Linked DNA regions of Homo sapiens. The protein of the gene in region 1 purifies or fractionates together with the protein of each later gene. This does not show direct contact. Each region holds a gene or a part of one and is shown on either strand. Other genes may lie near its edges.

Evidence for each region.
Region 2: the proteins of LRRN4CL (region 1) and PODXL2 purify together in Homo sapiens (affinity purification with mass spectrometry; one large-scale study listed by BioGRID and IntAct). This does not show direct contact.
Region 3: the proteins of LRRN4CL (region 1) and MTX2 purify together in Homo sapiens (affinity purification with mass spectrometry; one large-scale study listed by BioGRID and IntAct). This does not show direct contact.

Annotation. Positions count from the first base shown.
Region 1 is NC_000011.10:62,687,278-62,691,030, forward strand, and holds the start of LRRN4CL (LRRN4 C-terminal-like protein precursor), read right to left. Parts: upstream 2,254-3,753; 5' UTR 2,150-2,253; intron 1,237-2,149; 5' UTR 1,232-1,236; coding exon 515-1,231; 3' UTR 1-514. Other genes in the region: BSCL2 (seipin), read right to left, coding at 3,090-3,244, 3,335-3,415, 3,510-3,596.
Region 2 is NC_000003.12:127,663,641-127,667,293, forward strand, and holds part of PODXL2 (podocalyxin-like protein 2 precursor), read left to right. Parts: intron 1-3,653. UniProt on the Homo sapiens protein: Acts as a ligand for vascular selectins. Mediates rapid rolling of leukocytes over vascular surfaces through high affinity divalent cation-dependent interactions with E-, P- and L-selectins.
Region 3 is NC_000002.12:176,328,334-176,331,986, reverse strand, and holds part of MTX2 (metaxin-2), read right to left. Parts: coding exon 3,602-3,653; intron 3,114-3,601; coding exon 3,075-3,113; intron 2,687-3,074; coding exon 2,561-2,686; intron 1,404-2,560; coding exon 1,327-1,403; intron 1-1,326. UniProt on the Homo sapiens protein: Involved in transport of proteins into the mitochondrion.

The DNA.
Region 1 (3,753 bases):
AAAAAACAAAAAACCAAAACAAAACAAAATAAAAAACAAGGGCGTCTGGCTGTGTTGCCCTGGCTGGACTGGACTCCAACTCCTGGGCTCAAGAGATCCTCCCATTTCAGCCTCTGGAGTAGCTGCTACTATAGGTTCGCATTACTAAGTCAGGTCGTTTTTACATTTTTAAATGGTTACAAAGGTCATATAAATACCCACATAATAATATCCTCCATTTTATCCTCTTAAACCGCAAAGGTTACATTATTTATTATCTGGCCGCTTAAAAAAAAATTGGGGGCCCCTTTCTATTCCTTCCCAGACCTCAGCCAGGAAACAAAGCGCCAAGTACCGGACCTAAACAAGCGCTCAGTCCTGAGAACCATGACTCCGCCGTGGCCCTGGAGCCTGGGGCTGGCTCCCAGCTCGCCGTCCAGCCCTCCCTGGAGGCAGCGGGTTTTCCTCTTTCCCGGGGGCCAGGCTGAGCGCCCCAGGTGGGGCTGTCTGTGCCCGAGATGCCCCCAGGCCCCTTTCAGAGCGCCCCTGCGGCTCGGGCGGCGGCTCGGCGCGGGCAGCCCCAGCGATCGCGCAGGCAGAAGTGCCACACCAGGGCGGCACAGCTTAGCAGGGCCAGGGCCGTGCCCACCCCGACGGCCGCGTGGACCAGAGTGCGGGGGTTGGGCGGCACCGCAAGGCGGCTGCAAGGCCCGAAGGCAGGGATGTCGGCCCCCTCGAGGCCCTCTCCTCCAGCCTGGGGCACGCGGCTTGCCCCGGCCTCGTTAGCGGCCACTACGCAAACGACATAAATGCCCCCTGGCTTCAGCCCCTTCAGTTCGGCTCTGCGGACCGTAGCGTTCAGCGGGGGCCCCTTCTGCGCAGCCTCGCTGCCGTCCCAAAGCAGCAGCCAGTAGTGGAGGACCGGGGAGAAGGGGGCACACCAGTGGACCACTGCGCGGCCCTCTTCGGCCGCAATGCGCACTTCTCCCATGCGCGGCGGGTCGGGCGGCTGGGCGGGGCTGGAGAGTCCTGGGCACAGGCAGGCCGCCGGCCCGACCCTCTGTAGCTCCTTGCAGGGCACCTGCAGGTGTCGGCAGTGGTCGTAGTCGCAGGGGACAGCCGGCAAAGGCGGCCACGCCGTCTCAGTCTCATCTGCCTCCTCTTCTTCAAAGTCTTGAGGGGCCAAGGGCTGAGCTCTGGGAACCAAGAAGGTCACGGCCAGGAGCCACAGAAGGCAGGGAGAGCCCAGCATGGAGACTGGAAGGGAAGGGGTGGATAGATAAAGCCTGTTCAGCCCAAAAGCCTGCCATGCCCTCTGCCTGGACACAATCTCTGGAGACAGGAAAATGCAACTGGGGATCAGAAGAGGAAAGAAGTTGGAATGAGGCAGACACACTCATTTGTCAACCAACTTCTGAGTCCAGGCTGTGTGCTTGGTTTCAGACAAAAAATAAAACATGATCTGACACATGAGACAGATGCATGATCAGCATGTGTTAAGTATTAGAAACAGTTAATGAATAAACAAAGTGCTGAGGGAGAGAAGAGGAGGACATGATTTACTTAGCCCAGGGAAGAACGGTAGGATATTTACTAGCTGCCACCCAGAGAAAAGATCTAAGCAAAACAAGTAACAAAGCCGGGCCCCTAGGCTGATGCCTATAATCCCAACACTTTGGGGAAGTCAAGGCAAGAGGATTGCTTGAGGCCAGGATTCCAAACCAGCTGGGGCAACACAGAGAGACCCCATCTCTACAAAAATTAAAAAGTATTTAAAAATTATTAAAAAGTTAAAAAACATTAAAAATATACTGCACATGCCTGTGGTCCCTGCTACTCAGGAGGATCACTTGAGCCCAGGAGTTCAAGGCTGCAGTGAACCATGATCGCCCCACAACACTCCAGCCTGGGTGACAAGAGTGAGACCTCAACTCAACAAAAACATGTATCCGTCAGTGACACAGGCAAAAACCCAGAAAGGAGACAGAGTTGAGAAAAGAGAACAGAATGGAGAAATATTGTAAGCACAGCTGTATTTTTTGAAAACAAGAGAAAAAAATAGGGACGCTGGAATCCTCCCTCCCCACCTGCTATCTGTGCAAATCCTGTCCAAGGAGTCCTGGCCCCTGCATGCCTCCCTCCTCCTCTCTGGCCCATAGCAGCTCCTCACCAGTGGGTAGGCCTTGATGCAGCGGGAATCCACCAGCTGACGTCTGTGGGTGTTAGGCTGAGGGATCCCCAAGATCTCAGGCTGTGCTGTCAGGTTGTATCTTCAACTTCAATGCCGTTTGGCTGGAAGCTTTTATAACCTTCGACTGTGATGTCACCACCTAGCTCCCCTCCTCCTCCCCCCACCTCCCTGGTGATTGCCAAAAAAGAGGGCTGCTCCCTTCAGAGGGACTGAGTCACGGGGCCAGGGATGGGGAAAGCCACATGCAATGGTTTCAGCTGGAGCCCAGGATGCCTGGGTTCTGGAAGGGGAGTGGAATGTGGAAAGCAGCCAGGAGCTTAGAATCCGAAGGCTGAAGTCATACAACGGGATGGGGAGGGGAACATAGAAGGCGGCCACCTGGCTGATATTAGAGGAAAACAGCTGCGAACAGCACGGGCCTGAGCCGCAAAATGCTGTTTTGGTAAAAATCCTACCACATCCATGGCAGTCATTTCCTGTCTTCTGCCTCCCAATGGACAGAGAAAGGGAGGAAGGGAGGAAGGGAGGGGTGTAGAGGGGGCCAGAATGATGTCTCCCAGCTCTGCAGACCTGCCCTACACCATCCCCCTCCTCTGGGGGAGATGAAAGTCACATGCAGGGAGTGGGAAAGCTTGCTAGGGGCCAGGATAGCTTCTCCCTCCTTGGACTTCCTAGGCTTATGAATGGAAACATCTGTGCTTAAAATAGCCCAGGTCTGGAGGCCTTCCCCTGGACAAGAAGACCTCCCCTCTAATGGCGGAAAGTGAGAGATGCATGGGGGACACAGGGTGTTCAAATGGCCCTGAACCCATTTCAGAGTCAAGGAAGAAGCTGACACAAAATAGTTTATTGAAGGAAAAACGAGGGGAGAGGAGTCAGGTGGGAAAGTGCTGGAATGTGAGGAGTCTGCCCCTTTTCTTCAGGAACTAGAGCAGGTGGGGCGCTGTCGGAGAGCACCCCCAGCAGGTTCAGAGCTGCCCAGAGTCTCTAGGACAGGGGCAGAAGCAGAAGCAGGAGCAGGAGCAGGCAGGTTGGCCTCCGTCAGCAAAGCTGCATCTTCCCAGGAGCCTGAACCTGGGCCAGGAAAGGGAAAAACAAAATCTCAAATGGGATATTAGATTAACCGGGGGCCCCACCCAGGTCACGCTGCAGGATGCCCCTCACCATCACTGGCCTCAGGCTCTAGCTCCTCTTCTCCGCTCAGGGGCTGCTGATCTGGTTTCTCCTCCTCGGACAGCTGACCCTCTGCAGCCAAAAGGGGAATGCAGGGGTCAGACCCAGACACTGAAGGAGAAAGCCAAGGAGTCAGGAAGGAGAGAGTGTGGTGGCTGCGCCATACCTGTCCCTGAGGGATCTTCAGGGCTCTCACCATCCTCTGTAACATCTGATTGCGGAGTTGACTCCTCCTGGCCTTCAGGCCCTGCACCTCCAAAGAGGGAGAGGACAGGTTAGGGTTAGGGTGGCTGTGCCTGGACGGCAGTGCCAACCTCACCTTCCTCGCCTTTCCTTTGACCCTTGTCTCAGTCGGTGATACCCTAAGCCTCATACTGGATGAAGCAGGGACTCCTTCTGGCCCAGCCCAG
Region 2 (3,653 bases), on another chromosome or scaffold:
AGCCTCTTTGAGTTGGCCTCTGAGTCCTTTTGACCAATCTATTAAGTGTCTGATTGCTTCCTTGCTTTCTGGCATAATAAGACATTCCAGGCTCACCTTCCTCCCCCAGACATGGAGCCCTCATTCCCTTCATTGGGAAATGGTACATGAAGACCACAGATGGGTACTTGGGACCCTTGAACTTTTGGTGTGCATACTTGAACAATACAGCCTAAAGTTCGTATCTTTTTGCCAATCAATACATAGATATTAAGATGCTTTTATTCTGTTTTCCCTGTTTTTGTCTTCTGTGTTATTCTAATATGTGACCTCCACTCAATTAGTCATCATTATTTTTTATGGTAGATTTTTTTTATTGTAGTAAAAAACATAAAATTTTCCATTTCACCCTTTGTAAATATAAGTTCAGTTGTGTTAAGTATATGCACATTGTTGTGGAACAGAGCCCCAGAACTTTTTCATTTTCAAAGCTGAAACTCTGTACCCATTAAATGACTACCTGTTCCCCAGTCCCGGCACCCACCATTCTCCTTGCACCCACCATTCTCCTTTTGGTTTCTATGAATGGGACTACTCTGGATACCTAATAGAAGTGGAATTAGACAACATTTGTCATTTTTACATCTGGTTCATTTCACTCAGCATAATGTCCTCAGGGTTCATCCATTTGGTAGCATGTGGCAGAAATTTCTTTTTTTTTTTTTAAGGCTGAAAAATATTCCATTGTATGTATATACCACATGTTATTTATCCATGCAGCTGTCCATGGACACTTGCATTGCTTCCATCTTTTGGCTATTGTGAATAGTGCTGCTGGGAATGTGCTGTGCAAATATATCTTCAAGACTCTGTTTTTAATTATTTTGGGTATATACCCAGAAGTGGGGTTGCTGGATCATATGGTAATTCTATTTTAAATTTTTTTGAGGAATCTCCATACTGTTTTTCGCTATGAGTATACCATTTTACATTTTCGCCAGCACTAGGGTTCCAGTGTTTCCACATCCTCATAAACACTTGTTCTTTTCTGTTTTTTTAAACAGTGGCCATCCTGAGAGAAGTGAGGTATTTGGTTGGTGCAAAAGTAATTGCGGTTTTTGCCATTGAAAGTAATGACAAAACCCGCAATTACCTTTGCACCAACCTAAATGGTCTCATTGTGGTTTTGATTTGCATTTTCCCTGATGATTGGTGATGTTGAGCATTAGTCATTATTATTAACAGTCAATGCTTACTATATTTTATCAACATACTTATTAGTTTCTTTGCCAGATTCACCACTTGTTAGAATTTTTTCAAACCATTTGAGAAAAAGTTGAAGACATTATTTCCTTTTGCCCCTACCCCCAAATACATTAGTTTGTGTTTCCTCAGAACAAGAATATTCTTTTAGATAACCACAATGGAATGGTCAAAATCAGGAATTAGCACTGCTACAAAACTATTATCTGATTACCTACCTTATTTCAATTTCACCATGGTTCCAATAATGTCCTTTATAGCCTTCTTCCCTCCCATGCCGGGATATAATCCATGGTCATGCATCACATTATTTGTCTTGTCTCTTTAGTCTCCTTTAATCTGGAATAGTTCCTCGGCCTTTCTTTGCATTTAATGACCTTGACTTATTTGAAAAATGAAAGGAATAAATGTGCATAAAAACTGATGGGCTATACAGAGACTACATATTCAGAAAAAGACAGGGAGAAAAGTGCTGGCAGTCTCTTGTGGAAAGTTTTACACGATGGAACTACAGGAGTTCCAGGAGTTCAGCCCTCAAGATCTAGAGAAAGTGATGCAGGCTCAGTGGCTTCTATTTTACCTAGATGTCACAGGTAACATAGAAGAAACTGGAAAGAAGTCTAAGAAGGAAACATGAGAGGAGGAAGAAAGATAAAACAGGAAATCCAGAGGTGGTGTTTTTGAGTTCTAGAAGGCAAAAGAAATCCTTACTGTAGAGATGCAAGGATCTGATCCTTTGTCTAGCACAACAGAGAGAAGTGCTAGAGGATAAGGACAAGGAGGAGAAATATGTGGATCATCCTTTAGTGAAAATCCTGAAATAGAGCTTCCATGCAAAGGGCTGGATCATCAAGATCTGGATAAAGAAGCAGCGTTGACACAGTGATGAGGCGCCAGTCCTTTGCCTGAGGCTGCAGAGTTTCTCAGTGCATGCCACACACGTGCTTACAAGATGTTCCAGGCTGCATGGGACTTTCCTTGCCCCAGCCCCCAATTTAGCCATTTCTGCAAGGAGTCCTGCTTCCTTTTAATGAGGAAAGGTATTTAGAAACTAAGATCTGGGCCCCAGGTGTGCTCATGGCTACTGGGGTGTCACTGCTTCTAGGCCCTTCTAGAAGAACTGAGCAATATGGATCTTTATTTCTGTCTCTCTCTAGGGCATAGATATACATATATCATGTATAATGCATGTACACATATTAAAAGTACAAATTCAGTATTTCCAATTCTAATCCATCACCACTGGATGATGTCCTCCTGTGCTTACTGCTACAAACTTTAGATCTGTAGTCCATCTGGAATTAGTTTTGGTAAATGATGTCAGGTATGAATCAAGGAACTTTTTTTGTTTTCCATGGGATATCCAGTTGTCCCAGCACCTGTGATTGAATAAGTACTTTACTTATTCACAGTAAGGTAGGGTGTCAGGACCATTGCCCATGTTTTTAAATAGGGAAACTGAGGCTCAGAGAGGTACTTCTTTTTTTTTTTTTTTGCTGACATCACAGAGAGCTGACAAATGGCAGAAGCAAGATTTGAACCAATGTATTTATTTATTTTTGTCACCCAGGCTGGAGTACAGTGGCACAATGTCAGCTTACTGCAGCCTCAACTGCCCAGGCTCACGTGATCCTCCCACCTCAGCCTCCCAAGGAGCTGGGACCACAGATGTGCACCACCATACTTGGTTAATTTTTTTGCATTTTTTGTAGAGACGGAGTTTGCCGTGTTGTCTGTGCAGGAGTTGGAACTCCTGGGCCCAAGTGATCCACCTCCCTTGGCCTCCCAAATGTTGGGATTACATGAACCAGTGCACCTGGCCAGAACCCAGATTTATTTGATTCCAAAGTCAGGGCTTTTCCCCCTTGCCACGGACATTCAGTTTTCCTGTCTACATAATAAGTGGTATGAAATCTGCAGTCATCAGATCCTCCCACACTGACATTGTGGGTCTCTGGGCTTAAGCCAGGCAGACATATGTACCCAGGAAAACATGGGGTGTGCAAACACAGCAGAGCACAGAGCCACAGCACAGAGGGCAGGCACTTCATGTGGCAGGAGAGTGCTTGTTTTGTAACCAGGGGTCTGTGGGTCATGGTGCATGGACCCTTGCTCTGGCAGGGGCGGGCATGCACTCCTTCTCCCCCCATACTCAATCAGTGAATAAAGTAAGAACCATCACAGAACTAGGGGTTTCCATCTGCTCTATGGCCATCTCCAGGTACCCATCTTCTCCCACATTTAAAACTCAGTTGGCTGGCTATTAGACCAGTGAGTGCCAAGGCTTGAGCCTGAGCCTGGCATTTGCCATGGTAACAAAGAACAGAGGCCCAGCATTTCAATCCCTCTGGTAGCCTTTAGGTTGGCATGACAACTACGGAACAGCTCATTAGCCTGGGCTCTAGCAGAAG
Region 3 (3,653 bases), on another chromosome or scaffold:
TGCCAAACTCTGGTTACTAACACAATGACAATGAGTTTAACTGAGAAGAAAAGTAAGTTAGATCTATTCTCCTGGCCTCCTCTAAAGACAGTGTGCATAACAAAACTAAAATAGAATAATGCATTTCAATAAAACACACCCCTTCTGAGCTTTTCAATTCCTAAGAATTCCTCTGTTAGAAAGAAAAGAAATCACGTAATATTGACATTTGGATACATTTCTCTTGTGTTAGGGACTGAAAAATAGAATCTGTAGAGCAAACATCACTAGAAACAGGAACAGAGTTGTAGAAGCTTTACCCACCAGAATTTCACAGTTTGAATTCTGAAGATTTTTCTGCTTCAAAGATCAACAGAACCCAGATTTTAATATCAATTATATATGTATATATTACTTGTGTTATAGATTAATATAACTTAAATATTTCCAAACTATCATCATAGCCATTTTTACTACAAATATTATCTTTACCCAAATATGTTTGATATGGTTATAGAAGAGGAATGCTTATGACGATATAACACATAATAGCAAATAAAGCCTTTTAGAAATTATTAATCTAAAAATCAAATAATTTTTATTAAAATGTCAAGAAAAGGTCAGACTTTCTAGGGAAAGTTTTGAGATTAAAATGCTTTAAGCCCATCTTACACTGGATCACAGGACAGCTGATTCTGATATATTAAAATTGTAATTTTTTAACAACGGAAAATTCATTCTTTGCCTTCATTAGAGTCTTTTCAAAACTGCAAAAGCAAATCTATTAATGAAACATTATTCAACTTACATATATACACATATATTTAACCTATATCCTTTATATTAATTTCTGTGTTTTACAAATATTTTCATTAACATTTTAAAAGATAAGTTCATAATAGTGCTTGTCCATCAAACAATATTTTTTAATATTTAGTTTTATTGACTCTTCTAATCCTCCAGCTATCATTCTATATAGAAAACCATAGTTACATTAATAGTAACTTACTTTCCTTCATGTTTAATAGTACAAGTTTAGAATTTTGTTAAGATTTTGTAGTTCCATGTATAGCACCTTGAACTACCTCATTAAAACCTTATCATACAATGATTGATTTACATGACTGCCTTTAAGAGAAATTCTTAATGATAAGGACCATATTTTAGAAATCTTAGTCTCCTAGAGCCTAGCACTGTGCCTGAGAGTAAAGTGCCACAAAAATATTTGAGTACAAAAATTATAAAAATAGCTAAATATTTTCTTGAAAAAGCAATTCTTTTATGAAAAAAAGAAATTTGCAACCTAACAGTACAGAAAATTAACTTTAAAAAAGTAAAATTTCTTACTGCTTATTGAAGAAATACGGTTGTGTTCCCAGTCTTTGAGAGAGAGCTTGACAGCACTGGTCTACATCCTCTAAGACCTAACACAGGCAATGAACCCCAAGGAAAAGTATTTCAATTAGCAAAACAATAAAAAGTATCTAAAACGTAACTTGTATCACAGTTTATAACAAAAATATAAATTTAAGTTAACCTTTTATAATATATTTTAATAAGACCATAGACCACATATATATATAATACTTTCTATATAAGAAATACTTATAAGAAATACTTTCTATATAAGAAATACTTATAAGAAATACTTTCTATATAAGTATATATATATAATACTTTGTATACAAGAAATAGGAAGAAATTCTCAGTGAATGTCCTTCAAAATACAAGTACATTTAAGTTACTTATAAGGATTTTGTCAAGAACAAAAGTGTCTTCCTGAATCCATATATTCAAATGGCTTTGCATATACCAAAAAATCTGCTTAATAAAGGTAACAACATTGACCCACTATGAGTAAAAGCATTTGAGTTATTTTCCCACTAGTGGAGATAGATTTTTATTTATTCTATCCCTATTCATTTACTGAAACCCCCTTGTAGCCAATGGCACACATCAGTGAGATGGCTGGCTAGTATTAAGGGTAGCCTTGGAAAAGACGGGCATTAATTAACTTAATGATGCTTGTGGACAAGATAAGTATTTTTAAGTTTTGCTACTTTAGTAGCAAAAATATAGATAGACAGATAGATAGACAGATAGACAGATAGATAGACAGACAGACGGACAAAGTACTGTATTTAACAGGGCTTTTTTTTTAAGCCCTGATGCTGCAGATCTATATTTAGTTACATAAAAGGTGCCCACAATGTATTGTTCAATTAAAAAAAAAAAAAAACCCTCAGGTTATACAGTAGCAGGCATAATGATCCCATTTGAGAAAATGTTACTAAGAAACATCTAGAAGAAGGCTCTCCAAATAGTTAAGGGTGGTATTTTCTAGGTGATGAGATTTCAGGCAAGTTTTATTGCTTTTTTACACATATCTGCATTGCATTGTTTGCTTTACATCAAGCATGTATGATTTTTTAGAAATAAAATTACTTCATGTTAGTGAAAATCACAGGAAATGGTTTTCTTGCAAATCTTATATATATTTTTTTAAAGGAGTATCAATATAAAGAATGATTCTTTTAATGCATAAAAGTTGAGGGTTTTGTCAACTTCAACCTGAACTGACCTGGTCCAGAGTCTTCTTTCCCCATCCAATAGCTTTCATCTTACGTTTGACTTCCCACTGTTTTTGATAGGCCAAAATATGATTCAGAGGCCAAGGGTAAGGAGATCCATACCTAGCATGAGTGATCTAAAGTAAAAAGATTTTGTAAAAAAGGTGATCCTTCCTAAAAACAATGCCCGTTTTTACAAATAGAATTCTAAAAGAAATATATTTTCAGAGAACATAAATAGAGCAATCTGAAAAAAATACACATCCTGCAATCTAAAAAATTAAAATTTTAAGCCATTCCCTTTAAAAATATATAAACTTTTATGTACTTTGCAACCCGTTATATCAAACAATGACACATAGCTTCCCTAAAATGTTATGTGCAAGCAAAATTAAAGTAAGTGAAAAACTATATCACTAATGGTATAAACCACAATGTTTCATTTATGAGCAGGGACTTGCGATTCTGAGCAAAAGTGTTTTCTCATTAAATTTTAATTAAGATAAATGTTACAGAACCACTCACCTCCCCTACTGTAGCTTCATCACACCACTGAAGATACAGCTAGGAACAAAAGAACAGTCACTAAACTTTAGAATACCAAAGAGGAAAAGGATAAAGAAAGTTATTTTTTGCCAAGGCAATTTTTTATAAGCTAATTTCATAAGTCACACATGTAGCGGTTTGTTTTTCTTAGCTGCTATCCACAAAAATGTAATGATGGTACGTTATAAAAATATTTTTTATTCACACAATACATGTCTAAATACCATTAAAGTGTTTTACAGATATTATTTAAGCAAATTTCAAAAGGCCAAAGTAAAATAATGAGTAGGCAAGAATCACTCCTTTTTATAAACAGAAAAACTAGAACTGAAAATGTCAGGTAACTTGTTCAAAGGTAATAATCAAATAATTTAGGTAGCCAACTCAACTCTAGAATTACTTGACTATTTTCCCATTTCTCAATAACTTTAACCCATAAGAAAGATTATATTTTATGAGAATGAGAGAAAAAGCTTATTTTCAAGCCGTATCATCTAGTATTTTACCTCTGCAGTCAACAGCATATTGTTGACTAATTCCATGTAAGCTTTCATTTCT